Linked DNA regions of Homo sapiens: region 2 is linked to region 1. The links come from fine-mapping of genetic effects on gene expression. A gene starts in region 1. The other region holds a variant in brackets. All regions are shown on one strand. Distances are between the middles of the regions.

Evidence for each region. PIP is the estimated chance that this variant, and not a neighbour inherited with it, causes the effect.
Region 2: its variant is fine-mapped to the expression of NT5E in whole blood (INTERVAL, PIP 0.95).

What each region holds. Positions count from the first base shown.
Region 1 is chr6:85,448,526-85,451,437 of GRCh38, reverse strand. It overlaps NT5E (5'-nucleotidase ecto), which reads right to left and starts at 1,355. Exons shown (of 9, transcript NM_002526.4): 1 at 960-1,355. The coding sequence starts at 1,298. RefSeq lists a silencer at 1,293-1,562.
Region 2 is chr6:85,414,168-85,417,079 of GRCh38, reverse strand. No RefSeq gene overlaps it. Among named protein-coding and RNA genes, the nearest start is that of LINC02535, 11 kb to the right of the region's middle. The variant A/T (reference allele first, on the strand shown) is at 1,654.

The DNA.
Region 1 (2,912 bases):
TTAGTGCAATAGAAAAGGCATTACCTTTAACCTAACATTTGGGACTTTGAACTAAACTTTTGCACATGTTTTAAGAGCCCATTATCTCTTAAGTTGGACTCTTCCTAAATCTCTGCCGCCAAACCTACTTTATTGAAATCCTTTGAAACCCAAGTCTTTCCACATTTTGGCTCTCTCTGAAGTTTCTTTCTTTCTTTCTCTTTCTTTCTTTCTTTCCTTTTCTTAACCCTATATTATAGTGTCTGGTAATAACAACATATATAGACACCACACTATGTGTCTGGTAATAATATAGAGACCACACTATGTGCACTATGTACAATTATAATCCTTATTTTTATACAGGATAGAACTGAGGCAAGAAAGAGTAAATAACTTGCTCAAGGTCACATAGAAGGTAATTGAACAGAGAATCTACCCCAAAGCTGTGAGCTTAATTACTCTCAAGCTCCGGGGTCAAAGAGATCTGGTGTCCATTCTTATCACGTCTCCCTTTTTGCGGGGATGGTGCCTGTTAATTTATTCAGCTTCTTCGACGCGGTTTCCCTTTCAATAAGATTGAGATAAAGCATTTTTCGAAAGATCTAGATTGAGATAAAGCATTCTTTGAAAGATCTAGCAGTAAATGAGAGCTGCGTGAGGGATCCGATTCAGTCCCTAGCTCTGGATAACTGTCAGTGCTTCTACGCACCCCACCTTAAGCCCCTCGCAGGCAGGACTGGGTCCTGCTCCTCTAAATACTCCCATCTCATAGTGGGGGCGCAATAACGTCCGTTTAAGACGAATCGTCCAAGGGACTTCTATGCATCCAGCTGGCACACTGGCCGGAGTCTCACTTTATCCCCACATCTCTCCGCGCCCTGGACCTAGGCTTGCCACACTCTGCCATCCGCTGCTTTTCCAGCCCGGCTCCTCTCTCAGTCCGGGACTACTATCCCGGGCGCGGGCTCGGGTCTTACCATGGCATCGTAGCGCAGGGCGTTCATGAAGTGCGCCACCTCGGCGCCCTTGTACACGGTGAACCAGATAGTGCCCTGGTACTGGTCGCCGGCGTCCAGCAGCAGCACGTTGGGTTCGGCGCGGCGGATCTGCTGAACCTTGGTGAAGAGCCGAGCCACGCCACCCATGCAGCGGCTGGCGTTGACGCACTTGCTGGAGTCCTCGCTGGTCTGCTCCAGCCGGCTGTGCACGTCGTTGGTGTGCAAAATCGTAAGCTCCCAGGCGCCAGCCGCAGGCCACAGCACCGCGCCCAGGGCGAGGAGTAGCGTCGCGGGCGCCCGCGCGGCTCGGGGACACATAGCTGTGGCGCGTGAACTGGGTGCGAAAGCGGGCGAGCCGGGCGAGTGCCGGCGAGTAGGGGCGAGCAGCTAGGGCCGGGGCTCGGTGCCCCGGCTGGAGGGGCGGGGCCCGGGTCAAGGCCGGGGCGGGTCCTTCTTCAGCCTGGAGGCCGGCTTGGCGGCCAGGCGCAAGTTCGCGACGTCACCCGATCCGACCCTGGTACCCGGAGCGGCCCTGGCGCGGCTGTCGGCTGGCACCAGCTCCCTGCAGGAAGAGTGGAGAGGTTGTTCCCGGCGGGGAGCGGGTACCGGCCGCATCCCGGCCGGACCAGGGAGCCTGGGCGCCGGCAGTTCGGCTGCTGGTGCGCCGCTCTTTCGGGGGCGCGAGGAAGGAATTGGAGGGGTCCGCCCCGCGCCTGGGTCCTCTCTGAGTCTCGCCTCATTCGAGGCACGGGTTTTTCTACAAAAGGAATGTATGGTTTGTGGTTGCGCTAGCTCATCACTTCAAAGAACCAAAGAAGGAAAAGAGAGGGGGCGGGAAGAAAGATGAGCGAGCTGAGGGGCAGAGAGGAGGAGTAAAGAGAGGCCGGGCAGAGGAGCTCCTTGCAGTTTCGGGCTGTGAGAGCCGAAGCTCACTGAGATGTGACGCTTCCTGTTGGGTTGAGAACGCACGAAGTCTACGATGCTTAGACAAAAAAATCTCAGAAACTAAGAAATCATTCGAATCCAGTTCCTTGTTTATTCACAATTAAAACCTTAGTGATAAAACAGAGGCGACGCGCGGACAGCTCCTGGAAGCAGAAACACGATTGGGGTAAAATCCGGCAGCTATCAGGACGGGAAGGGATGCTGCCCTTCTTTGCTTTTCTGGTCTTATTTTATTTTATTTTATTTTTATTTTGTCGCGTGTGCTTTCGGTGTCGCAGTGAAGTCATAGCCAAATACAATGTTAGGAAGATTTTCCTCTATGTTTTCTCCTAAGAGTTTTATAATTTAAACTCTTAGACCTTTAATCCATTTTGAGTTAATTTTCATATGTGGTATGAGTCCACATTTACTCTTTTTCATGTGGATATCCAGTTTTCTTAGTACCATTTGTTGAAAAGACATTCTGTGCCCGTTTTTAAGACATTGACCTGAGGTTCGGAGATTGTAAATCATTTGCCAAGAAAGGCCATGCAGTTTGGGAGCAGCAGTGCCTGGGGCTACAGAAGACCCTTGCTTCTGGGACACCCTCTAATGTCATGCTTTGCAAGGTTTTGCTCTGTCCCTCTTTGAGCACCTGCTAGAAGCAGGTAAAAGAACTGGTAGTTTTGCTGTTTTAACTTAAAAAAAGAATGATTTTAGACTTACAGAAAAGTTGCAAAGGTAATAAAGGGAGTTCCCACATACCCATCACCCATATTGCCTTATGTTAACAGCTTATATAACCAATGAAACTAAAAACTTAACAGTGATACGAAACTATTAACTGTGTTACTGATTTTATTTTAATTTCACCAACTGTTCCACTAATGTCCGTTTTCTATTCCAGGACCCAATTCAGGATACCATATTGCAGTTAGTTTTCCTGTGTTCTTAGCCTCCTCTAATCTGTGACAGTTTCTCAGTCAGTTGTCTTCAAAAACCTTGACA
Region 2 (2,912 bases), 34 kb after region 1:
AGAGCAAATTTTGTATAGGTTTGAAGACTCAAACTTATTAATACGTCTCTGAAGGACTCTAGGTTTATTCAGTCCTTACTCACCACCACCTTAACTTATACAAAATCAGTCAGACTCGCTACAGAATGACCTCTGAGATCATTTCTAAAATTCACAGCAGAAAAGGAACTGAAGTGTTTGATTCATTTTTCTTCTGCACTGATGATGTGGGCTAACTCTCAAGGCACCAAAAGTAAAATAGAGGTTGATTGTAGACTTGGAAGAAGAGGATTTGTTGTTTCTGTCTTGAGTATTTATGAAGAAATCTCCTCAGCCTCCAGCTTCCCCATAACAGACTGACCAGGCTATAAATTGGGCTAAGACTTTGAAGTGTGAAATGTTGGGGGGTGGGTAGACAGAAAAATGGGCTATCATTGCCACAAGCCACCCAGCACTCAGACAGCTCCTCTCATTTCTCAAGAAATCTATAATCATGGAGCGAGAAGAGATCATTTTGGAGATGATGAAATGGAGGCTCAGAGAGACAGAGATTTGTTCAATGCCACCCAGTTCGTTGGTGGGCATGACATTAAAGCCTGTGTCTTAAATTCAGCCCAGTGATTTGTCTATGATCCACAATGATGGAATCTTTAGATTTTGTATTTAAATGCCTGAAGAAACAGTTTTGAAATGACTAGTGCTGAGGAAGAAAAGAACACAATCAATCCAGGAGATACAAGAGACTCGTAAAACAGTTAAAATCAGAACAGAGTGTTCCATTGTCATATTCTTGAATCTGAAGGAATGGCAATGTGCTGTTCTGTGTGAAAGGGCAGAGCACTTTGCTTCTTGAAAACTCTTTCCTTTCTGACCTGACAAAAATCAGTTTATTCTGACCTTCAGAGTTTGAGTCAAGATACCATGTGTGGGGATGAGTAACATTTTCTTGGTTTTTCATAATGGATTGTTTATCTTTTAAGTTGCAAACAGTTCATTTTTTGAACTATATCTGTTTTACTGGCATTTTCCTTCTGAAGCAATTTTGCAAAAATCTCTTTCTTCCTCCTCCACAGGCATATAAATACCCTTTGCAATTACCACGTGTCTGACTTTACCTGTTTATTACAGAGGGAGCTTTCAGAAGTTCCAATTATACATCAAATTCATGGCCTAGATTGTACTTTGATCCTAAAAGTATAATTTAAGATAATTTTTGTCAAACAGTTACACAAATTATTGTGGTCTTAATTATTATTTTTTGTACATAAAATATATTTGTTTAGCTAGGTCCCCTTTTTAAGAAAATGTATTATTGGTGCCCCATAGAAGAAAGAAAAGAAAGAAAGGAAGAAGAAAGGAAAAGAAAACTTACCATCAGCCACCACCTGCTCTTAGTTAGAGTTCAGTTTTTTTTTCTGGGTTGTGAATTTCTCAATATTTTTTGAATGTTTATAAAAATCTCCAGAAGCAGTATAGGAAGGAAGAGTCAGTGAGATGCACACCTGTATCAGTCAGATGTTTTGGCTGTAAGTAGCAGAAACAGACAAAAAAGAGACCCCTAGTTTGCTTCAAATAATAAAGAAATTTATTGGTCTACATAATGAGAAGTCTAAAAATGGGGTGGCCTTCAGGGTGCATTGATCTTGCAACTCAGCATCATTAAGAACTCAGGTT[A/T]TTTCCATCTCTCCATTCTGTTAATCACAGTATAATCTTTGTTCTGAGACTGGTTGTTTTGGGGGTCAAAATATGTTTGTCAGCAGCAATGGAAGCTGCAGGAGTTCTTGTTCAGATTTAACTTCAAGGAGAGATAATCTCTTCCTATGGTTTTCTCTAGTGTCAGGAAAATTTCCCAGAAGATCCCAGAACAAACCTCCGCATACTGTATTTACCTAAATCAAGTTACTTGCCCATTACTGAACCCATTCCTGTCATAAATACCATGCTTAGACCTAGTATATAACGTTGTCCCCAGGAAGCAAACTCTGGGACAATTTGTGTGCAGGAGGTTAATTGGCCAGTACCCTCCTATCAACACTTGTGGAGGAATAAAGGAAGTGGGACTGGACAAAGGAAGGCGTTAAACTAAAGACTTAGTCAGTTCCACAGGGAATCCTGGCCTTTCAGAGTGGTCTTTCCTTGCATTAATTCTGCCCCAGCTTTATGCTCGGCTTTGAACAGTCACTGAATGTGAGCTGACTCCAGGGATACGGTGTGGTCTTGGGTAAGGTAGCCTTTGGCTTGGCTCTCCAGGGTAATGCCTAGAGAGGGGCTCAGCTGAGACCCATTAGTTACCAACACTTTTAGCATGGAGGCATTGTTGGGGAATGAGTATTTCAGACCTAAGGTGAAGGCATCTGAGAAGTACACCACAGCATACATTACATTTCACCTCTTGAGTCATTTGGATCTGCAGTCTTTGTATGTCTTCTGGGAATAGCTCCTCTAGAATTCTTAGTGATCTGTGTTCCTGGAGCTTACAAAAGTAAGGTTAGCAGTCAGGATGAATGACTGCCCCTGTGAGGGTTGAAGGATGAAACAAAGTCAACCTGCTACCAAGTGGCTGGTTCCTTTCTTCAGAGGATGGTGCTACTGCCCCTCTACCTGCAGTCATAGGCAGATGCGGAAGAATAGAAAAATTTCAAGTAGCACCAAACTAGCAGTTAGTTTACAATATTTTTCCTCCAGGATCTCCAGCTGGCTCTCAACATGGTCAAAATCTAGAAGTACCACTGTGGAACAGAAAGAAAGTCAAGGAAATACATTTAGCTCTGGCTTGAGGAACTCTTAAAAGAGAACTCTTGGCTGGGCACGGTGGTTCATGCCTGTAATCTCAGCATTTTGGGAAGTCAAGGTGGGTGCATCACTTGAGGCCAGGAGTTCAAGACCAGCCTGGGCAACATGGTAAAACTCTGTCTATACTAAAAATACAAAAA